Linked DNA regions of Homo sapiens. The protein of the gene in region 1 purifies or fractionates together with the protein of each later gene. This does not show direct contact. Each region holds a gene or a part of one and is shown in the gene's direction. Other genes may lie near its edges. The genes, in order: CLEC4A, DAB2IP, IGDCC3, BCAM, FGFR4, ROBO1 and ADGRA3.

Region 1 (2,746 bases):
CAAGACCAGCTTGGCCAAAATGGTGAAACCCAGCCTCTACTAAAAATACAAAAATTAGCCAGGCATGGTGGCACACACCTGTAGTCCCAGCTACTGGGGAGGCTGAGGCATGAGAATCGCTTAAGCCTGGGAGGCAGAGGTGCAGTGAGCCAAGATTGCACCACTGCACTCCAGCCTGGGACAGAAAGTGAGACTCCATCTCAAAAAAAAAAAAAAAAAAAAATTCCTTCCGTATGTACTGAACATCATGCTTACAAGCGATGTCTTTGATTCTGCCCTGCTCAGCCAGAGATCCCCATTCCTACGTAGAGCTCTAATGCAGCTGTTGCTGGATCCTCTCCTTTTCTTCTTGTTTCTCTAAGGTATTAAGAATTCAGTTTAAGCTGAATACTGTAAAGGCTGTGACTCCTTCTTTTCCCCCCTCAGGATTTCATCTTCCAGAATCTGCAAGAAGAATCTGCTTATTTTGTGGGGCTCTCAGATCCAGAAGGTCAGCGACATTGGCAATGGGTTGATCAGACACCATACAATGAAAGTTCCACGTGAGTATAGAATGAGATAAAAGAATCTTGGGTCCTGGATCATGCAGAGAGCTTAGGGTATTCTAGCTATCAGCTATAAAAGTAAAATAGCTCACTCTTCTTTTAGCTCTTGGGTACTAGGTTAAATAATTTCATTATCTCATTTAATCTGCGCAAGAACCCTATGAGGCACACATTGTTATTTTTCCCACTGTAGATATGAGGAAATTGAGCTTGGAGAGTGTAGATAATTCAGCTAAGGTCACCCAGTGGTGTCAACAATTGTTCTCAAATCAGGTGGATCTTACTGTGCTTTTAACCCGTATATTTACCTGTCTCTACATAGTGAAAACCCATGTTGATTAAGATCATAACCAATTATTAAGATTTAATAATGCTTTTTTTTTCTTTTTTGAGACAGGGTCTTACTCTGTCAACCAGGCTGGAGTGCAGTGGTGCAATCATGGCTCACTGCAGCCTTGAATTCCTGGGCTCAACTGATCCTCCCACCCAAGTCTTCTGAGTTGCTAGGATGACAAGTATGTGCCACCACACCCAGTCAGGCTGAAGATGTAATGCTTCTTATGAAGCAAAAATGCTAAATTCTGATAATCTTATATCTCATATTTATGTAATTCTTTAATTGCATAAATTACATACTTTACATATATTACATAAATTACATAAAATACATACTTTACTGGATTACCACCTTCGATCTTCATATCCACTGTATGAAATAAATAGTGATATTACTCTAGTCCTTATTTTTTAGATAGAAAAACTGAGAATCAGGGAAGTTAAATTACTTGTCCAATAACAAGGATAAGTAGAAGATTCAAAAGATTTTACTAGTTCTCTAGACTTTAAAAACAGTGCATTAAAAAAAGGAAAAAACTCTATTGATAAGTGGGACCAGGGTAAAATCTTTTCATCATACAAGGACACCCTATAGGTTGATGGACCCATAGGAACAGGACATAAGGATGGACAAATAGAAGAGAACCTCTAGAAAATCTATGGTGAGGATATTCAAAGCAGTAAGGTAGAGAACATTGAGTGACATAGGCACAGTTTTCAAAGGAAATGCCGGAAATGCAGATGGAGGAGAAGCTGCATGATGAGTAGCAGAAAGGTGGATTTGGGCATATCTGACCCTATGTTCCATGAAATTCATCCCTCGCTCCTCACCCCTGTCTCTAACCCTTTTCAAAGCTCTGTTTGAAGAAATGCCCTCATCCTTTTTGTCGCTTTCAGATTCTGGCATCCACGTGAGCCCAGTGATCCCAATGAGCGCTGCGTTGTGCTAAATTTTCGTAAATCACCCAAAAGATGGGGCTGGAATGATGTTAATTGTCTTGGTCCTCAAAGGTCAGTTTGTGAGATGATGAAGATCCACTTATGAACTGAACATTCTCCATGAACAGGTGGTTGGATTGGTATCTGTCATTGTAGGGATAGATAATAAGCTCTTCTTATTCATGTGTAAGGGAGGTCCATAGAATTTAGGTGGTCTGTCAACTATTCTACTTATGAGAGAATTGGTCTGTACATTGACTGATTCACTTTTTCATAAAGTGAGCATTTATTGAGCATTTTTTCATGTGCCAGAGCCTGTACTGGAGGCCCCCATTGTGCACACATGGAGAGAACATGAGTCTCTCTTAATTTTTATCTGGTTGCTAAAGAATTATTTACCAATAAAATTATATGATGTGGTGTCTCCTCCTGTCTGGTTTTCTCTTCATCCCTACTATACTGATATATAATTGTATATATATACTGACATATATATATATTATATTTTATATATATATTATAATATATATATATACACTGACAAATAAAATTGTATATATTTAAGGTTTACACTGTGGTGATTTGACATACATATATATTGTAAAATGATTACCGTAATCAAGTTACTTAACCCACACCCATTATCTTACATAGTTAACAATCTTGTGTGTAGTGAGAACGTTTAAGATCTACTCCATTCTGTCCATTGGTATCAACAAACACAAAGCAAGATCTACTCCCCAAAAAATTTCAAGTGTGCAATGCATCATTATTAACTATAGTCACCATCCAGCACATTAGATCTCTAGAACTTCGTCATCTTAGAACTGAAAATTTGTACCCTTTGACCAACATTGCCTGATTTTCTCCACTGCCCTCCATTCCCTCACAACCATCATTTTACCCTCTGTTTCTATGGATTGACT
Region 2 (2,699 bases), on another chromosome or scaffold:
ATCTGGCCAGATGGCTCTGAGCACTGTATCTGCCTTCTCCTGGGGCCCAGCACACCCAGGGCACAGTGGTCCTGTAGGGAGTGCCACCTGGTGCTCACCCTGAAAGAAAAGGTGATCCTTCCTCTGAGTGATGGTTTAAAAAAAGATTCTAACGCCTGCAGGCCCTGAGAAGGTGGATAACTGTGATTTTTTTTCCTTTCACAGTATGCATTAGAAACAAAAGCCCGCTTGCTCGCTTGCTGGAACACAGGGGCCTTTTAAGTTGAGCGTGCGCACTGCATGGGAAATAGCGGCCCTGGAGGATGTTAGACTTGCTCCCTCTCCAAGACAGCAGCAGCCTGCACCTGCCCCGTGTGTGTGGCCGGCCTCCTCCTCACCCTTCCCGGCCCCCGGCCAAGGACCCAGGCGCTGCATACAGGGGAGGGGCGCACCCCACAGCTGGGGCCGGTTTTCCTCAGCTCTAGGCTGTTCTGTAGCTTATCTGCCCCTCCCCCACTTTCAAGACAGATGAGCAGGAGCTTGGGTCTCTCTCGGCCCCTGTCTGTTCCCAGCCCCTGCAGATTCTGAGCAAAGGCCCTGGGTAAGAAGGGTGGGAGTGGGGCCTTTGCCAGCAGAGCCAGGGCAGGGCGAGCTGCAGGAATCACCCCTCTGCCCCTGCAGCTGGAATGTGCCACAGAGGCCCCACCTGAAGGGTGGATGTGCTGGAGGGGTGGCCCAGAGCCATACTGCGTCCACCCTGAGCTCGGGGACAGGTGACAGTGGCTGCTCTGGGAAGGGGCTTTTAGATGTAACCTACAATTCAGTTAGGCTAGAGACAGATGCTGGTGGAGGAAGGGCTGGGCCACCAGGGATCACAGACCACAGGAAGATGGGAGGTGGAAGCAGAGGCCCTGCCCCCACCCCTTCCTGTCTCACTCTTCTGTCTTGTCCCCACCCATGCGCCTTCGTGCCTGAGACCAGGGTGGCCACACAGGCAGGGCCTGGCTCCAGTCTCATCCTCCCATTGCCCAGTGAGCCCTGCTCTTCTCTCCCCAGCCCCCTCCCACCGCTGCCTCGTAGAGTGACCTCGGACAGAGCCCCCCTAGCAATACAGGGAGGCTCCCGGGGCCTGGACAGGCGGGCTCGGAGGCTACCCGCTGTGGCCGGTGCCAGCTGCCCTTGCAGGGTGGGTGAGCTCTCAGGCCGAGAGCCTTATTTACCTAGTGCAAAAACTGTAAAAGTGTACAGACTCTTCACAGATTTTTATCTTAATTGCAAGTCTGCCGATTTTGTAAATGTTCTTGGTGTTTGACTGTAATGTAACTATCTCACCTAATGGTTGTACATATCCTTTGGTCCTGGTGCTGCCGAGGGCTGGCCGGGACTGCTGCTCTCCCAAGGGTTTTATTTTATTTCTGAATCTAGAGAACAGTATTGGGCAGGAGGAAAAGGCTTGGTGTCTGCGGGGGGTGTCTTCCCTGCCTGTGGCATTTGTGTGTTGGCTTTGCAGCTGCTGTCTGAGTAGTGGCCACTGGGGTGCCTTCACTGGGCCAGTCAACGGGGGGCTCCTGCCCAGGCCACAGAGAACCTGAGTTCCCGGGAGCTGGGCCCTGCCTGCAGCCAGGGCTGGGGTTGCCAGAGGCCCTGGAGGGAAGGACAGTCCCTGCTGGGGAAGAACAGCCCCGGGGCCCCCTGGTCACCGAGACTCAGCCTCTGCTGGAGAAAGCCACGCCCTCCCTGCTAGCACAGAGGCCTGACTGACTTTTTTGCTTAACTTCCATGTTCTGGGTGATGGAAACTGCCAAACCTCCTGTCAGTGAGGACTCTTTCCGACTGCCCAGAAAGTGGGGGTGGAGGACCGAGGCTACAGCTCCACACGCCCCGGTCCCCCAGAGCATCTGCCCCAGGTACACCTCCCCCTGCGCCCCGCACGACTGCGGGAGCCAGACTGTCCAGGGAAACAGCCTCTCTCTTTTCTACACACTCAGCCACAAAGCCCCCCAGCTCCCACACCGCGTCCCAGCTCCCCTCTTTTGTAAGTATGTGAAAAGGAAAAAATGCAAACGTTGGAGTTTGGGCTGGAGCTCCTCCCTCCAGCTGCGACTTTTAACTATGTAATAATGTACAGAGGAAGCTGTTGGTGTTCTAAGACTCTGTGTGGCTGTGCAATTTCTGTACATTTGCAATTAGAAATATTAAAGATTTATTTAGCTATTTTAAGCCCGACTCGTGTCTCCATTCAGCTGTGTGTTAAGGGATGACCCTGAGTCCGGAGCGGACACTGTCCTTTACCAAGGGGACCCCAGCATCTGGTTCACTCTGGTGGCATTCGTGGGCAGGGGATACCCCTAAAGCCAGTGGTGGTGGTCTGGCCAGCTTGGCTCACTGGGAGATCTGGGATTGCCCCCTCCTCCTCTGGGTTGAGGGGTCTCTGCACCAGGGAGTAGAGCAGTTGTCCTCTTAAAGGCTCTTCTCTGGCTCTGATACGTTTGGAAGAAAAGTCTGCTGGTCCCACCACCTCCTGGGAGACAGGGTGGTCCCAGCACCTTCACTGCAGCACACACTGGCTCTTGCCAGGCCCTGCATTAAGCGCTTTCTCATCCACTGAAATCTGGCTCTGGGAGGGAAGAGACCAGGGAGAAGAGGTGGGCCCAGGTCCCAGCAAGTCATGGCAGGGCTGGACTAAACATTTCCAAGCTTTCAACACCTTGAAAGTCAGA
Region 3 (3,500 bases), on another chromosome or scaffold:
TCTGAGTAGCAAGGGGCTAGCAGAGACCACACCCATGTCATAACCTCCGCTGTGGGGATTTTCAGGCAGCATAGTGAAGCCTTTGGAACAAGGGCTTCAGGGCCAGACTTCCATGGGTCTGAACCCCAGCTCTGCCACTCAATGATCAGTGCCCTTGGCAGGAGTTACTTAGCCCTCTTGAGAGTCTGTACCCTCATCTGAAAAAATGTGCACCATTCCATCCATCTGTCAGGGCTATTGGAGGAGTAAATGAGGTGATGGGTCTAAAGCACCTGGCACAGGGCTTGGCATGTAGGAAATGCTAAGTATTATTGTTGGTGCTCAGTATTGCCCACTAATTTAGGATGAGGTCCCAGGTGTCTCAATCCTGGCTGGGTTCTCCAAGAGCCAGGATTGCCCTCACTCCCAGCCTGGGGCCATCTTGCCTGGGCAGGCCCAACAGTGGTTTAAATGTGGGTTGTGGTGGCAAACAGACCTGGGCTTGGTGGGCTTGGGCCTTGGCCCCACCACCTGCTAGCTGTGAGATCTTGGCCAAGTCACTTCACCTCTCTGAGCCTTGGCTTCTTCATCTTTAAAATGGGGGAATGTGATGGCTCATGCCTGTAAATCCCAGCACTTTGAGAGGCTGAGGCAGGAGGATCGCTTGAAGTCAGGAGTTTGAGAGCAACCTGGGCAACAGAGCAAGACCCTGTCTCTACTAAATAAATAAATAAATAACATGGGGGAGGAATAATATAAAATAATAAAAAATACCAAGGAGAAATATTGTGAAGATTACCTATGATAATGTGCAGGAAGAGCTTAGCACAGGGCACAAAGGCAGCATTCCTTAACTATTATTAAGGTACTAATTTTATATATATATATATATATATATATATACACATACATATATATACACATACATATATATACATACATATATATACATACATATATATATACACACACACATATATATATAAATATATATATATATATATATATTTTTTTTTTGAGACCAAGTCTCGCTCTATCACCCAGTGCAGTGGTGCAATCTCAGCTCACTGCAACATCTGCCTCCCGGGTTCAAGCAATTCTCCTTCTTCAACCTCCTGAGTAGCTGGGATTACAGGTTCCTGCCACCATGCCAGGCTAATTTTTATATTTTTAGTAGAGACAGGGTTTCATCATGTTGGCCAGGCTGGTCTCTAACTCCTGACCTCAAGTGATCCACACACTTCCTCCGAAAGTGCTGGGATTACAGGTGTGAGCCACCGTGTCCAGCCAGGTACTAATAATATTAACTATTATCATTTTGAGGAGCTAACAGAGGTGAAAACATGTTAAATTATGAGCTCCTTTAGTTGTGGTATCATTCCCGGAAAGGTCCCTGGTGACTCCAGACTCCTAGAAAGAGGCAGTGGGACATGGGGAGAGGAGAGAAAGTCCAGTTCTAGTCCCCTGCTCTCTCCGCCTCAATAAGTCACCTAGCCTCTCAGGCCCTCAGTTCCTACTTCTGAAGTCTGAATCATTTTAACTTGTCAGAGGGAAGGCAGTTTCACCAGCTATTCTAGAGTCCCTTTTCAGCAAAAAGGCTCATGGTGTGTGGCTCTGGGGGCAGGGTCTGGGTGGAGGTCTGTGGAACCAGGTTGGAGTGGGGGTTAGGAGAACTGCGGGCAGGAGCTGCTGGGGAGTACAGCCTGGTATTTAGGGTGCCCTGTGTAGGGAGGTGGGTCATGGAGGGAGGTAGTTCCTGGCACAGTGGCTGGTAACCCTGGAGGCCTCTATCACCTGGAGGTTAGTTGCTCAGGCCTGGTGTGTGGAATGCAAGTTCTTCTCTCCTTCTTGAAGGAATGAAGTTCTTCTCCCGCTTAACTGAGGGAGGCCTGAGGAAGTCTCCCCCGCAGCTCCTCAAACACACACATCTGCCTGTCCATTAGGACAGGAAGCTGCTGTCCCCAGCGATGAGTGAGTGCCCATACCTAGGCCTACCCTCATGTCAGGGCCTCACCTGTACCCAGCCTCAGCTCATAGGTAGGTGCAAATGGATGGGGTTCAGACACTTTAACCTGCCAGTCAGCACTGCACAAACTGACCCTTTCTGACACCGCTGAGAAGTTGTGTGGTAGAAAAGCCCTTGTCTGGACACCAGGGATCCTGTGTGGCTGTGGACAAGTTGCCCACCCTCTCTGGGCCTTGCTTTTCTGATTATAAGGTGAGGGGGTTGGACTGAGGCTCACCTCTGCTCTGGGGTACGAAGGCTTCCTTCCATCCATCTTCAAGACGTGCCTGCCTCCCCTGGGCCTCCTCCAAGTCTATTTCTGCCTGGTTCTTCCCATACCTGATCCCTCCCCAAAGACCATCCTGCTTACAGTCATATCTTCCTCCCCTTCCTAAGGCAGGGAGCATTTGTGGTCTGTGGCATTCACGCTAAACCCTCTTGGTGATGGCTGCTTGCATTGTTAAGTAACTGTTTTGTGGCTGGATATTCCATCTGTCTCCTCAACTAGATTTTAAGCTCCTAAAGGGCTTCTTTCTTTTGTATTTCTCATGTCCCCTGCCTGTGGAGCCTGGTAAAAACTAAATGAACATGTGGCCTTCTGGGACAAAGCTGTCTCTCTGTCTCTCCTCTGTTTCTCTCTCTGCTTCTCTTTTGCTCCCCACCCCACCCCCCTTGTAATTGATAGCACAGCTCAAAGGAACAGAAGCTTGTGAACGGGGAGGATGGGCAGGGGAATATAATGCACGCGGGGCAGGATCCTGGGGTGCTGCTGCCGCGTGTTTATCTCTAGAGGAACTGAGATTCTCTCTTCCTCACCAGATGGGGTGTGAATCAGAGACTAAATTGCCTGGTACCCCCTCCATGCAGGGGTCTTGGGTCTCCTGCCTTGGGCTTTACTCTCTAGCTAGACAAGGCCTATGTCCCCAGGCTCATTGGCCCCCAACTGTAGGGGGAGGGCCCCCTTACTCTGTGTGCAGGGCCTCCACTCACCCCCACCCGCAGAACTTGAGTGTGGAAGTCGAACGCTTCTGGTTCCCACACCTTGGCTCCACTGTCACAGGCAGCCAGCTGGCCCCTTAAACACAATGTGCAAATCTTCTCTGTTCCTGTTCCTGGCATTGTCAGCGGCCAGGCGCCTTGGCTGGGAATGTGGGCCGGTGAATAGGAGAGGCATTTGCAGCCTGCAAATGAAACAGGCCCCCAGCCCCCCTTAACCCTCTGTCCCCTCCCCACCCCCAGGGAGAAAGGACTTTTTCACTCCTGGCCTTCTTGTATTGCCTTTCCCTCTCCCCTCTTCTCTCCAGAGTGCCTGCAGGCTGGTGTGTGTGTGTGTGTGTGTGTGTGTGTGTGTGTGTGTGAGTGAAAGAGAGAGAGTTTTCCACAGTAGCTTGAAGGCTGTTCTCCATAGCTTTCAATAAACGTAGAATGCAACAGAAGAGTACCCAGGATGAAAAACCAAACAGCTCACTGCTGTCTTTGTTTAAACTGGACTGAGTGATTCCACCAAAAATGTCTG
Region 4 (3,500 bases), on another chromosome or scaffold:
GAGAGAGAGACTGAGGAGCGCTGGGACACCCGGAGCTGAGAGCCTGCCCCGCGCCCACAGACCGACCGCTCGGGAGCTCGCCCCCGCCTAGCCTCGGCTGAGATGCAGGGCTCTGAGCTCCAGGTCACAATGCACGACACCCGGGGCCGCAGTCCCCCATACCAGCTGGACTCCCAGGGGCGCCTGGTGCTGGCTGAGGCCCAGGTGGGCGACGAGCGAGACTACGTGTGCGTGGTGAGGGCAGGGGCGGCAGGCACTGCTGAGGCCACTGCGCGGCTCAACGTGTTTGGTAAGTGTCCTCGGGCATCCCCCGAAGGGAGGCAGGCAGGGAGGGGCGCAGGGCAGGGGCTCCTGACGTGAACGTCTTTTTCACAGCAAAGCCAGAGGCCACTGAGGTCTCCCCCAACAAAGGGACACTGTCTGTGATGGAGGACTCTGCCCAGGAGGTACCTCTCGGGTGGACCTTGGCCCCAGGGTCCTGGAGGAGGAGGGGACAGGGCCCTGGACTCCTGGGTCTGAGGGAGGAGGGGCTGGGGACCCCTGGGTAATAAAGGAGGAGGGGTAAGGCCAGGCGAGGTGGCTCATGCCTGTAATCCCAGCATTTTGGGAGGCAGAGGCAGGCGGATCACCTGAGGTCAGGAGTTCCAGACCAGCCTGGCCAACATAATGAAACCCCGTCTCTACTAAAGATACAAAAATTAGCTGGGTGTGTTGGTGTGCAACTGTAATCCCAGCTGCTCGGGAGGCTGAGACAGGAGAATCACTCGAACCCAGAAGGCAGAGGCTACAGTGAGCTAAGATCACACCACTGCACTCCAGCCTGGGCCACAGAGCAATACTCCGTCTCAAAAAAAAAAAAAAAAAGAAGAAGAAAAGAAAAAAGAAAGGAAGGGCAGAGGGGGAAGACTCCTGTGTCCTAGGAAGGAGAGAGCTGGGGGACCCAGAATCCTTGGTCCCTGGAGGATGGTGCTGGAGGCCTGGACTCTTTAGTCTGAGTCGGGGACTAGGAATTTGGACTCCTGGGTCCTGGGAGAGTCGGGAGTTAGGAGCCCGGCTCATGAGTCTGAGTGGGGAGAACTCCTGAGAGAGGAGCCCCGACTTCAGAGTCCCAGCTCCAAGCCCAGGGCCATGCCCGTGTCTGCCTCAGATCGCCACCTGCAACAGCCGGAACGGGAACCCGGCCCCCAAGATCACGTGGTATCGCAACGGGCAGCGCCTGGAGGTGCCCGTAGAGATGAACCCAGGTGAGCAGCGCAGGAGCGCGGCGGGACGTGGGCTGGGGTGGGTGGCGGGGCTATGGCCTGGCTGACTGCCACCTCCCCCGATCTCTCCCAGAGGGCTACATGACCAGCCGCACGGTCCGGGAGGCCTCGGGCCTGCTCTCCCTCACCAGCACCCTCTACCTGCGGCTCCGCAAGGATGACCGAGACGCCAGCTTCCACTGCGCCGCCCACTACAGCCTGCCCGAGGGCCGCCACGGCCGCCTGGACAGCCCCACCTTCCACCTCACCCTGCACTGTGAGTCTGTGCTGGCCTTTGACCTCTGACCTCAGGCTCCACACCTCATGAGGCCTGACCCTCCACCCGGGGGCTTCACACTCCCCTCTGACCCTCTGCCTCCCTACTTCATGCTAAAAAAAAATGTGCTAGTGCTGGCCACTGACCTCTGACCTCAATTGGTCGCACAAGCCCCATCCTGACCTCTGACCTCCGACCTCCACTTAGCACCCTGGACCCCATGAAGTTTATGACTAAATGGTGCTTTCCACCTTCTCACACTGAATTGGGTCCCCCCATGACATCTGGCTCCAAGTCTCACACTGACCCATCGCCCATACGGACCTCTGACTCTTGACCTATACTCTTAGTTTATTTCAACCTCTGAACTCTGGCACTCAGAATAATTGTGAACCTGAGGCTTGAAACCTATGACCCGTAACCTTTGACCCGCCATAGCCCTCACCTGGGATGCAGGGCTGACCTCTCGCCTGTCCTCTAGCCTTGACCCTTCCCCTGATCACAATTCCCATCTCCCTGCCCTTCCCTTAGATCCCACGGAGCACGTGCAGTTCTGGGTGGGCAGCCCGTCCACCCCAGCAGGCTGGGTACGCGAGGGTGACACTGTCCAGCTGCTCTGCCGGGGGGACGGCAGCCCCAGCCCGGAGTATACGCTTTTCCGCCTTCAGGTGACCCACCCAAGGGTCCCTCTGGGATCCACCCCCCAGCCCCTGACCTCTGTGACCTGCTAACCTGCATAACTTCTAATGTGGGACCTGGGAGTCCCCATGGCTTAGGCAGCCACCTGATCTGGTGGCCCACGAACTAAAAGGACCTCTGACCCCTGATTTGAGAGAGTCAGGACTTAGCATGCCACCTGACTTGATGGCCCCTGACCCCTGATTCTGGCTTAGCATGACACTAACCTGGTGGCTTCTGACCTAGCATGAGCCCGCTGAACCGGGGTGGCTTCTGAGCCTGGTTCCTCGTCCCCCGTCTCCCAGGATGAGCAGGAGGAAGTGCTGAATGTGAATCTCGAGGGGAACTTGACCCTGGAGGGAGTGACCCGGGGCCAGAGCGGGACCTATGGCTGCAGAGTGGAGGATTACGACGCGGCAGATGACGTGCAGCTCTCCAAGACGCTGGAGCTGCGCGTGGCCTGTGAGAGCCCTGGGTGAACGGGCGGGCAGGAGGGGCCCTGGCATCAGTGCCTCTGCGCCCTCCTCCCTACAGCCCTGAAGTTGCTCTGTCATCCCAAACACTCTGCCTTCAACCCTTTCTCTGCATTTCTTGGGGGTTTTTTTGGTTGTTTTTTTTTTTTTTTTTTTCCCAGAGACAGGACCTGGCTACGTTGCCCAGGCTGGTCTCGAACTCCTCATGCGATCCTCCTGCCTTGCTCTCCCAAAGTGCTGGGATTACAGGAGTGAGCCACCGCATCTTGTCGAGAGCTCTTTCCATAGCACAGACCTGACCCTCCTCTGCTCAGAATCTGCCATGGCTCCCCAGTACCCTTGGGAGAAGCCCAGGTGTCTCACCATGGCCTTCAAGGTCCACCTGGCCAGTTCCACCATTAGCTAGCTGATCCTTCTCCCCAGTCAAGGCTATCTCCTCATCACCCCCCAGGCTCCTCTGGTTCCTACCTTCACTGCCCATCCTTCCTACCGTCTATTTCTCACCAATCCCTTGAATCCCAGGCTTCTAAGAATGATTTTCAGTTCATTCGCATCCAGGCCCTGGGGAAAGGCTGTATTCTCCCTTGGCACTTCTTACATATCCCTTCCTGGGGTAGACCCTGCGCCAGATGCTGGGGACACATCTGTGAACAAGACAGACCACCCCTGTTATTTCAGTAGGGGAGACAGATGGTAAATGCTAACTAAGCCCTTTCGTAACAGTAGTGTATCTACAGGTGATATCACCAGTGAGAGAGAGCAGGAGAGGGGATTATTTTAGGTGGCAGGTGTTGCAGTCTGCTTTCCTGAGAAGCAGATTCTGACTTGGAT
Region 5 (3,500 bases), on another chromosome or scaffold:
CCCTAAGCTGGGCTGCAGAGCTGGTGGTGAGCTCCTTACCTGGGTGTGTGTGCGTGTGTGTGTGTGTTCTGTGCACTGGGTGTGTGACCTAGGAGGTCCAGGCAGCATGTGTGGTATAAGCATTATGAGGGTGATATGCCCCGGTGCAGCATGACCCTGTATGTGGCACCAACAGCATGTGCCTTGTGTGTGTGTGTGTCCGTATGTGTGTGTGTGTATGCGTGTGTGTGTGTGTGTGTGTCTTGGCCACTGTCGTGTGCACTAAATGCTGTGTGTGTGACATGCCCCAAGAGTGTGGCATTTGCCCTGGGTGTGGCATCCGCAGCATGTGGCTGTGTGGGTGTCAAGGAGTGGTGGCTCCTTCAGCATGCGTTGCAAAGTGCTTGTGCCCTGCATGTGCGGTGTGTTCTTTGTACACAGGAGGCTGCCTCAGATGGGGCTGCGGGGTCTGCTGACCTCTGCCCTCTGCCCACAGAGCCCTGCCTGGCTCCCAGCCTGGAGCAGCAAGAGCAGGAGCTGACAGTAGCCCTTGGGCAGCCTGTGCGTCTGTGCTGTGGGCGGGCTGAGCGTGGTGGCCACTGGTACAAGGAGGGCAGTCGCCTGGCACCTGCTGGCCGTGTACGGGGCTGGAGGGGCCGCCTAGAGATTGCCAGCTTCCTACCTGAGGATGCTGGCCGCTACCTCTGCCTGGCACGAGGCTCCATGATCGTCCTGCAGAATCTCACCTTGATTACAGGTGGTAAGAGACTCTAGCAGGGAGTGAAGGGATGCCTGGGGAGACAGACCTGCCCCTCTTGGACCTTAGATGCTTCCCTCTGTCCCTGATGTAGACTCCTTGACCTCCAGCAACGATGATGAGGACCCCAAGTCCCATAGGGACCCCTCGAATAGGCACAGTTACCCCCAGCAAGGTCAGTAGGTCTCCAAGGACTTGTGTCCCCGCTGCTGCTCATCTGATCACTGAGAAGAGGAGGCCTGTGTGGGAACACACGGTCATTCTAGGGGCCTTCCCCTGCCCTCCAGCACCCTACTGGACACACCCCCAGCGCATGGAGAAGAAACTGCATGCAGTACCTGCGGGGAACACCGTCAAGTTCCGCTGTCCAGCTGCAGGCAACCCCACGCCCACCATCCGCTGGCTTAAGGATGGACAGGCCTTTCATGGGGAGAACCGCATTGGAGGCATTCGGGTGAGTCTCTGGGTTCCAAGACCGTCTGCTCCCCCATTTTCATTCCTTCATCAGTCCCCTCATACCTACAAGCATACCTATAAATCAATCGAATGAGTGAAGCGATTGCGGGGCCCCGGAAGGAGCCCTGGACTGTGGACCTGGGCAGCTCTGGTTCCCCTTCTGCTACTCTCTGGCAAGTGACTTAACCTCTCAGCCTCAGCAACTCCATTTGTAAAGGGAGAAGAATCACTGACTGGTTGGTCTGCATAAGCCTTAGCATCTCATCGTCTTGATGAGACCCTGCAGGGTCGGCTCCATGCTGTCATGAGGCAACTGAGTCTCAGAGAAGGCAAGGGTTGGCTCAAAGTAGCACAGCTAGGGAGAGGGAGAGCTAAAATTCCAAAGGCTCAAACCCAAGGCTCAAGCGCCCTGGGGAGCCTACTCCTTTGTGCCATAGTCCTTGGCCTGGGCCTGATGTTCTCAGGGCCTAGAGAGCTTGACAAGAGCCCTGTGGGCAGGATGAGGATCTAGCCTCCTGGTCCTCTGGCCCCCTTGGTGGACATGGTCCGGTGGTCCCGGACACTCTCTCTGCCTGCAGCTGCGCCATCAGCACTGGAGTCTCGTGATGGAGAGCGTGGTGCCCTCGGACCGCGGCACATACACCTGCCTGGTAGAGAACGCTGTGGGCAGCATCCGCTATAACTACCTGCTAGATGTGCTGGGTGAGCGCGGGGCTGGGAACAGGGGAGGCCTGACCCATTTTGGGCTCAGTTGTGCCCTCTTGGTGGGGTCTAGTCTGGCAGGCAGGATGGACTCAGATGAGTCAGGCAGCTTGGTGAGCAGGTGGGTCAGGGGAAAGCACAGGGGTTAGTGTGGGGCTGGAGGAGCAGAGGTCTGCCAAGAGGAAAAACAAGAAGGACATCCAGGCAGAGGGCGCAGCCCGAGCGGAGGGCCTGAGTATAACAAACGCCCTGCACTTGCAGGCCAGCATATTCGTAGGGCGTGGCGTTTATATGGGGAGCCAGGTGGTGGAGGGTTTTGAATGCTAGGCTGAGATGTTGTCCTTGACCCGAAGCAATAGGGAGCCAGGGAAGGTTTAAGCAGGGTAAGCAGGAGACAGACAAGAAGCTGCAGAAAGGTCCCTCCCTTGAACTTGAGGAAGGCTGGAGGGAGGCAAACAGGGTGCTTCTATGGGTGCCGGTGGTCAGGGTTGACTGTCTCGCCCGGTCCCCAGAGCGGTCCCCGCACCGGCCCATCCTGCAGGCCGGGCTCCCGGCCAACACCACAGCCGTGGTGGGCAGCGACGTGGAGCTGCTGTGCAAGGTGTACAGCGATGCCCAGCCCCACATCCAGTGGCTGAAGCACATCGTCATCAACGGCAGCAGCTTCGGAGCCGACGGTTTCCCCTATGTGCAAGTCCTAAAGGTAAAAGGTGCACCCTGCTGCAGCCTGGGCCCCATTCTTCTCCCACCTTGGGTTGGGGGGCTCCCCAGCTTCCCTGTTGGCCACAGTGTGGCCCCAGGCCCTGCTGTGACCCCAGAGCATGTCCCCCACCCCAGACTGCAGACATCAATAGCTCAGAGGTGGAGGTCCTGTACCTGCGGAACGTGTCAGCCGAGGACGCAGGCGAGTACACCTGCCTCGCAGGCAATTCCATCGGCCTCTCCTACCAGTCTGCCTGGCTCACGGTGCTGCCAGGTGAGCACCTGAAGGGCCAGGAGATGCTGCGAGATGCCCCTCTGGGCCAGCAGTGGGGGCTGTGGCCTGTTGGGTGGTCAGTCTCTGTTGGCCTGTGGGGTCTGGCCTGGGGGGCAGTGTGTGGATTTGTGGGTTTGAGCTGTATGACAGCCCCTCTGTGCCTCTCCACACGTGGCCGTCCATGTGACCGTCTGCTGAGGTGTGGGTGCCTGGGACTGGGCATAACTACAGCTTCCTCCGTGTGTGTCCCCACATATGTTGGGAGCTGGGAGGGACTGAGTTAGGGTGCACGGGGCGGCCAGTCTCACCACTGACCAGTTTGTCTGTCTGTGTGTGTCCATGTGCGAGGGCAGAGGAGGACCCCACATGGACCGCAGCAGCGCCCGAGGCCAGGTATACGGACATCATCCTGTACGCGTCGGGCTCCCTGGCCTTGGCTGTGCTCCTGCTGCTGGCCGGGCTGTATCGAGGGCAGGCGCTCCACGGCCGGCACCCCCGCCCGCCCGCCACTGTGCAGAAGCTCTCCCGCTTCCCTCTGGCCCGACAGGTACTGGGCGCATCCCCCACCTCACATGTGACAGCCTGACTCCAGCAGGCAGAACCAAGTCTCCCACTTTGCAGTTCTCCCTG
Region 6 (3,500 bases), on another chromosome or scaffold:
ACTAGACGACAGATTATTACTGACTACATTCCAGTGGCAAGCTTATCATTTGGATTTTCACCTTTGCCTAAGTAAGCAGAAGCATTTCTGGGGCAAATTAAGATATTTGTTTTTTTTAATCATAGATATATTTTTTATTAGATATAACCTTGCTGACAGGTTTCAGTTTTATTTTTATGTATTGTGATTTATTTTTTATGATTTGCAGACATTTTTGTGATTCTTATTAAAATCATATTGATATTATATTATTAAAGTTATTTATAGTTTATATATATTTGGAGTATAAGCCTTTTTATATCCTGACAATCTGAATACAACAATAGAAGAGAAAAAAGGCAAATAAATGGTCCAATTTGTTTCTTTAGTTACTCAGAAATATAGAGAAAGCAGAGATGTGAAATCGCTCATGAAGAGAAAATAAATGTTTATTGTTTTTTCATCTGATATGTCTAGATTATCGAGCAAATGACACAGTTCCTCCAACTATCCCATACAACCAATCATACGACCAGAACACAGGAGGATCCTACAACAGCTCAGACCGGGGCAGTAGTACATCTGGTAAGTAAGATGAACCAAAGAACTTCTCCTTTAAAAAGCTGGTACTTTCCAAGATTACAAATTGAGTGCTAATGGACTGACGTATGTAGGTGACATGTCTAAATCACTGTATGTAATTTGAGTCTCAGGCATGTGTCTTGTCTCTGCAATTTGAGGGACTTTCCACTCACTAAATCATTTTATGTTCTATTTGGCAAAAAGACTAAGTGTCCTATTTTCTTCCTTGTTAATGAGCTTTAGCAAAGCCAGAAGAAACATGTCTGGTTAATCTTTAAAGGCAGTTGAAACTTTTTCCCCGTTGGCCAAAATATAACTAAAAATGTTGCACAGAGTTAACCTGCTAAATATGTTGCCATTTGAAACGAGCCTATAAAAGCACATAATGTTTGAGGACACTTGAGCAGAATCAAAAGCCGGAGAGACAATAACATGAGATTCAGGTACAATAGGAGCCTGTCTCAGTTTATCATCCCTCTACGATCCCTCAGTTCTTGCTCTGAAGCCTCGTAAAGCAACCTCCCAACCTCAGTCTGTAAGTGCCTCCCAAAGCCACATTGAGGCCTCTTCCCTGTGGTCTTCATGCTGTTACAGCTGTTTGCCAGCTGTTTTCCTGATAGGGGCTGCAGATGGGAGCTTGCTGGGTACTTAAGTCCTGTTTTTCTAATTAAAGGCAGTTCGTTATTAGAACTAACATGTGGCACATCACACCACAATGAGAACAAAACCGACTGATCTTGACTCTAGCAATGTTTCTCCAGGAGAGGGTAGAAATGCCACTTCCCAGCAACTGGATTAAAGTTGTTCTTAGGGGCTTTTAGCCAAGAGTCTCCACCCTTCTTCTGTAATGAATATGGCATTTGCATTTTACAGTTTTCCCTTAACTAACACGCTGGTCTGGCATTGTCTAGCCTGTGTTTCTGTTGGAATTAAGGGAGCTTAGAAATGGCCCTTTACCTTTTAGATTTACTCTGATTCTATTATATGTTATTTGTTTGTTTTAACAATTAACATCTTATTAAATGACTTCTTTTTTGAAGCTAAGTCAATCCTGAATTAAGAGAAATATTTCAAGGATCTACTTTTAAGAAAATCATATGAAATATTTTAATATTTGATTATCTTATGCCATTTGATCTTTGAATTTTTAGTCACATAGAGAAAACCATATCTTAATGGGAAAATAAACAATGATTCTAGGTTATTAATCTTTAATTGACCTTCAGCATCCCTCAGCTTAGATACCTAGATCTGGGTGTTCTACTGCTATATATCATTTGATATTCTGTGAATATATGGTAAAAAGATGTAAAGATGCGTGATGGTAATTAGGGAAGAGAACAAAGCAAGTAAATAAGGTATAGGAGAGATCTGTGATAGGCCTCTCCGGACTGATGGAGTTGCTACAGTAGATGTATATCAGGAAATCCAGAGGAAGATGTGGGTTAATGTCTAGTCTACAACACATGCACAGTTATCCCAATGCTGGACACCGGAGTGGTGGACGAGAGAAGTGAGAGACATACACATAGGACTGATAATCGTAGTTTATTAATAACAGCCTGTCCCTAGCCCACGCTTAGTGTGGTAACCTACCAGTACAAGAACATCTGGCTTAACAAACACTGCCATTTGACTGAAAATTCCCAAGTGACAAAAAAATCAAGGCTCATTGAATATGATCAGACCTGATTCATATATTACATGACTTGGAGAAGGATTGGATAGGGTTAAAAAACTAAGGCCAACATAATGCACTGATATAAAGGGAACTTATGAGAAAAATAATCATAGACTCATTGTCTATAATTCACATATGAATCAAAAATATAACATATTGGAAAGGGGATATTTTGTCCCAAAATATTTGTTGACCTAAAGTTTTTGTTAAAATAAATGCTCTCAAATATATAGCCTCTTGTGTTTAAAAAATATGCCAGATCTAAAATGAGAACACTGGAGCACTTGAATGATTGGGCTATGTCAAACTACTAAGAATGTTCAAGCAACATCATTTTACCATAAGCCATCATTGTACAGAAACAGTGGCTGAAAACACTTCTGTCCCTTTTAAAAATCATTTTTCTGCTTCTTTTGTCATTAGTTCTATCAGTTATTCCAGCTATTATTTCATCTGTACTTGCCTTTCTGAAGGGAACTAGTAATTTCATTGTGCCTAAAACATTTCAATGGACAAGTACAAATTATATATATTCAGTGATTTAATGCAACAGTGGAACTCTAATAGATCGTATCTGTATCATATTGTATTTTAAGTTCCAGCAATTAAATAATAGAAAGGCACTCGAGAAAATATATCTACAGCTCATTTGTTTGAGATGATAATCCATAATGCAATTAATTGCTGCAGGAAGATCACTATTAATGATATGACTTGAAACATTCATTCATGGTTTTATTGCTTTTTTGCTATTTATTTTGCAGTTATTCATGGCAGTACCTTGCATGTTCTCTTGTACAAAGTTCTGTTTAAAATTAATGAAAAAGCATGTTTATCTCTGTATATATAAATGAATTATAAAATCATATTTACAAAAAATAATTAACTTGTGACTAATGGAAAAAGTTTAAAGGCCAGAGATCAATGGCTTCTATTTTATTTCCTTTCTAGGGAGTCAGGGGCACAAGAAAGGGGCAAGAACACCCAAGGTACCAAAACAGGGTGGCATGAACTGGGCAGACCTGCTTCCTCCTCCCCCAGCACATCCTCCTCCACACAGCAATAGCGAAGAGTACAACATTTCTGTAGATGAAAGGTAAGAGGAGCATCCAAACAGATGTAAACAGTGTAATATGATTGTTTCAGCCCATTTTCAGCAATTATTATACTAGGTGGTCAAGAGAAGACTGATTCCTAAGGTCCACAAACAGTTGCCTTTAAATAAAATAGTGCTGGTCAGCAGGAAGTAAAAATTCTC
Region 7 (3,500 bases), on another chromosome or scaffold:
TATGACTAATGTGTGCAGAGTGTTGTGTGAGTCCAGAAGAGGAAGCAGCTAATCTGAAGATGCAATATACTGAGGAGATGCAATTAACTGTCCAAAAAAGCCCTGTTTCAAGGACTCTGTATAAAGTCTTCCCCCTGGCTGCCAACGTTTTTCATTCTAATCCACTTTCCGTTACACCAATTCAAAAGTTTGTGAGATGAAAGAATAGTGGAGCATTTCAGGTAGAGATGCTGGTCTGTGCAGTGAGCATGGTGGCATAAAAAGAATATAGGAGAACTTAAATTGATAACTCAGTGTAGCTGTGTTTTAGGTTGTGCTATAGGAGCATTCAGGGGATACATCTGAGCAATAGATTTTCATCAAATTATATGGTGAACTTAGGATTTGGGCTTAGTATTAAACATTGCAAAACCAAGGTGTTATTTAAACTGGAATAACATGATTCGATTTGTTTCTTAAGGGGAAATTCCGGTGAATATGGAATTAGAAGAAGAGAGGTTAGAAGCCAAGAAAAAGATTGTACAATAAATTCTTCAACTATGGAATGTTTTTAGATGGTTAATTGTTCACTTCTTTGGTATATATATATTTTTTACTGAATGCTGAATAATTTGTTATTTAAAAATCCTCAATAAAGAAATCTGAAAAAATTCAGTGATCAGTCAGCATTTTCAGTTGTTCCTATGTGTTATTATTTTTTTTTTCTAAATGTGTTTCCTAGTCTCAAGGAAATTTCTGCTAAGTGTACTGAATCTAAACCTCTATTATGTTTGTATAATTTCATTCTTTTGTTGTGTGGAGGTTTGAATTCATCATAAATCACCTTAAAGTTCCATAAGCCCAAATTAATTATACTCATATTTATGATATGCTACATTTGTGCTTCTTTATCATATTTTATCATTGTAAAATTGATACAGCCTGATCATTGAGATCCTTGATCTGTTTAATGCTATCTACTTCAACATATAATATCATGGGAAAATTAACTTTGTTAATTTGAAACACTTTTCTTGTTTACTTATTTAACTCTTTAAAGTTTGCATTTCTGTTTTATACTTCTTTTAATCTATGTTATGTGGTGTTGACATTTCGCTTGACTGATGATTTTTTTAACTGTTAAATTTTGTATATCCAATTTAAAAAATGAAGTCAACCTAATTATACCACTTTTGTAACTATCTGACATATTTTTTTCTGGTTTCTATGTACTAATGTAGTGAGCTTTTTTTATGTATATATATTTTTTCAGAATACTATTGTGGAGGCTTCTATTCAGCTTCCTCCTTCCCTTTTCTCACCAAAGCAAAAAAGAGAACTCAGACCAACTGATGACTCTCTTTACAAGCTTCAACTCATTGCATTCCGCAATGGAAAGCTTTTTCCAGCCACTGGAAATTCAACAAATTTGGCTGATGATGGAAAACGACGTACTGTGGTTACCCCTGTGATTCTCACCAAAATAGGTTTGTATGTGGCATATGTTATCCTGTAGTCAGTGGACAATAAGGCCTTGTAGTTGACTGTTCCTAAAAATGCTTATTTTAGTGTTTTCTCGTTTTAATGAGTCACTAGTGAAGAAAGATCTTGCAGAGTACCCATTACTGTAGAAGTTGACATTTATAATTGGTTATGAAGTTTGTTTCAGAAATATTTTTATTTCCCATTTTCTCCAGATGGTGTGAATGTAGATACCCACCACATCCCTGTTAATGTGACACTGCGTCGAATTGCACATGGAGCAGATGCTGTTGCAGCCCGGTGGGATTTCGATTTGCTGAACGGACAAGGAGGCTGGAAGTCAGATGGGTGCCATATACTCTATTCAGATGAAAATATCACTACGATTCAGTGCTACTCCCTTAGTAACTATGCAGTTTTAATGGTATGGCAGTTGTTAACTTTATGCATAAACACTATTCTACATTTTTGCTATGCATAATTAAGCTCAAATGAAGTGTTTTTTTGTTTTTTGTTTTTTTTTTTTTTTTACTTTTAACATAATTTGCTCCCTTTGATTATATGAGATGATATGTGTTCTAATTTTGATTTTAAAGGGAAATTAAGTTACTACCAAGTGAAATGTATGGGATTGAGTTTGGTATATAGGAATTTTAAATCAACTTTATAAGTCAATCAGTTCAGTTAGTCTTTGACCTTAAAACTTGGAGAGACTGTTGATGCAGATTCCCTCTGCCCAGAAAGAGTGATTTCATTTGCCGAAGGATACACAGTGAGTAGTGAAAGAACATTTTCCTACTTTGCAATCTAGCGCTGTTTCCCACTACATGTCGTAATTGTTAGACTCTATTTAAATTTAGAATTAATCATGATAATTTCATTTTTGTCATTGCAAGTGACAGTATTGACACAAAGAATGTCTTTTCAGTTTTAATGCCAGTCTAGTGTTGTTTTCTGTTATTTGCCGTTGTTAACACTAATTACAGGTTGAGTCTTATCTCTTATCTGAGATGCTTGGGACTAAAAATGTTTTGGATTTTGGATTTTTTCAGATTTTGGAATATTTGCATTATCACTTACCAGTTCATCATTCCTAATCCAAAAATCTGAAATCCTCCAAGGAGCATTTTCTTTGAAAAGTTTTAGATTTTGGAGCATTTTGGATTTAGGATTCTTGGGTTAGGGATACTCAACCTGTAATTTTTGGGGGGTAAAATAACAGTTATTAATGTACAGGAGCAAGTGTTTTTATTAATGAGGTCTTTAAGTGAATCTGACGTCTGAGCAGATAATTATGAAATAAACCATGCTAGTTCTTATTTTATATTGTAATTATTATAAATACTGACATCAAGGAGTATATTTAGAGTACGGTGGAAGGAATTACTGACGAGTGTGAAAGACATTTCCCAGAAATGGTTTGAGGTTACTCTGGGTGTGAGGAACTTCTATGTTATTTCTGATTCCAGCTGTAAATCTGTTTTCTAGAAAATGTTTTATCAAAGTGCTAAATACCTTGAAACATGATATATTTTACATTTCATGAATTTTTCTTTTCTTAAAAAAATAGCATTTAGCACTAGAAATGATCTTGAAGTAAACCTGAATTATAAATAATTTTCTTTGACTCTTGTATGTTTTTTTTTGTTGTTGTTGTTGTTTCAATTCAACTTATACCTTACCTGGTACACAGGTCAAGCAAGCAGAAAGGTGAATAGATTATTTATCAGAGTAAAGGGATTATCTTTTCATTGACATAATTGAGCATTTTATACAAGTGCAAGCAACATATTTAAACATGTATGTTTATAGACTCGGCTATATTTGTATATTTGTATATATAAAGGACCTTTATTCAATTGGGATTAACTTTAGTGTTGACAGTTTATGATTCTGATTCTCTTTGTAAATGGAAGATGTCTTGATTTCTGTAAGCATGAGTCTGGTTTCTATAAGTTCACATTTTATTATTGTGTAGTCAACTTATATTTATTTTTTGTTTTTTTGAGACAGAGTCTCACTCAGGTTGCCCAGGCTGG

Evidence for each region.
Region 2: the proteins of CLEC4A (region 1) and DAB2IP purify together in Homo sapiens (affinity purification with mass spectrometry; one large-scale study listed by BioGRID and IntAct). This does not show direct contact.
Region 3: the proteins of CLEC4A (region 1) and IGDCC3 purify together in Homo sapiens (affinity purification with mass spectrometry; one large-scale study listed by BioGRID and IntAct). This does not show direct contact.
Region 4: the proteins of CLEC4A (region 1) and BCAM purify together in Homo sapiens (co-immunoprecipitation; 2 studies listed by BioGRID and IntAct, with this or other methods). This does not show direct contact.
Region 5: the proteins of CLEC4A (region 1) and FGFR4 purify together in Homo sapiens (co-immunoprecipitation; 2 studies listed by BioGRID and IntAct, with this or other methods). This does not show direct contact.
Region 6: the proteins of CLEC4A (region 1) and ROBO1 purify together in Homo sapiens (co-immunoprecipitation; 2 studies listed by BioGRID and IntAct, with this or other methods). This does not show direct contact.
Region 7: the proteins of CLEC4A (region 1) and ADGRA3 purify together in Homo sapiens (affinity purification with mass spectrometry; one large-scale study listed by BioGRID and IntAct). This does not show direct contact.

The regions. Positions count from the first base shown.
Region 1 is NC_000012.12:8,136,362-8,139,107, forward strand, and holds the end of CLEC4A (C-type lectin domain family 4 member A), read left to right. Parts: intron 1-426; coding exon 427-542; intron 543-1,778; coding exon 1,779-1,926; 3' UTR 1,927-2,246; downstream 2,247-2,746. UniProt on the Homo sapiens protein: C-type lectin receptor that binds carbohydrates mannose and fucose but also weakly interacts with N-acetylglucosamine (GlcNAc) in a Ca(2+)-dependent manner. Involved in regulating immune reactivity.
Region 2 is NC_000009.12:121,783,332-121,786,030, forward strand, and holds the end of DAB2IP (disabled homolog 2-interacting protein), read left to right. Parts: 3' UTR 1-204; coding exon of another isoform or gene 205-214; 3' UTR 215-2,199; downstream 2,200-2,699. UniProt on the Homo sapiens protein: Functions as a scaffold protein implicated in the regulation of a large spectrum of both general and specialized signaling pathways.
Region 3 is NC_000015.10:65,368,003-65,371,502, reverse strand, and holds part of IGDCC3 (immunoglobulin superfamily DCC subclass member 3 precursor), read left to right. Parts: intron 1-3,500.
Region 4 is NC_000019.10:44,812,103-44,815,602, forward strand, and holds part of BCAM (basal cell adhesion molecule isoform 1 precursor), read left to right. Parts: intron 1-60; coding exon 61-289; intron 290-375; coding exon 376-446; intron 447-1,147; coding exon 1,148-1,244; intron 1,245-1,335; coding exon 1,336-1,518; intron 1,519-2,049; coding exon 2,050-2,186; intron 2,187-2,501; coding exon 2,502-2,658; intron 2,659-3,500. UniProt on the Homo sapiens protein: Transmembrane glycoprotein that functions as both a receptor and an adhesion molecule playing a crucial role in cell adhesion, motility, migration and invasion.
Region 5 is NC_000005.10:177,089,915-177,093,414, forward strand, and holds part of FGFR4 (fibroblast growth factor receptor 4 isoform 1 precursor), read left to right. Parts: intron 1-475; coding exon 476-739; intron 740-830; coding exon 831-911; intron 912-1,023; coding exon 1,024-1,190; intron 1,191-1,770; coding exon 1,771-1,894; intron 1,895-2,406; coding exon 2,407-2,597; intron 2,598-2,731; coding exon 2,732-2,870; intron 2,871-3,223; coding exon 3,224-3,417; coding exon of another isoform or gene 3,418-3,491; coding exon 3,492-3,500. UniProt on the Homo sapiens protein: Tyrosine-protein kinase that acts as a cell-surface receptor for fibroblast growth factors and plays a role in the regulation of cell proliferation, differentiation and migration, and in regulation of lipid metabolism, bile acid biosynthesis, glucose uptake, vitamin D metabolism and phosphate homeostasis.
Region 6 is NC_000003.12:78,630,999-78,634,498, reverse strand, and holds part of ROBO1 (roundabout homolog 1 isoform a precursor), read left to right. Parts: intron 1-456; coding exon 457-564; intron 565-3,193; coding exon 3,194-3,338; intron 3,339-3,500. UniProt on the Homo sapiens protein: Receptor for SLIT1 and SLIT2 that mediates cellular responses to molecular guidance cues in cellular migration, including axonal navigation at the ventral midline of the neural tube and projection of axons to different regions during neuronal development.
Region 7 is NC_000004.12:22,411,567-22,415,066, reverse strand, and holds part of ADGRA3 (adhesion G protein-coupled receptor A3 precursor), read left to right. Parts: intron 1-1,252; coding exon 1,253-1,466; intron 1,467-1,676; coding exon 1,677-1,885; intron 1,886-3,500. UniProt on the Homo sapiens protein: Orphan receptor that may have a role in planar cell polarity pathway.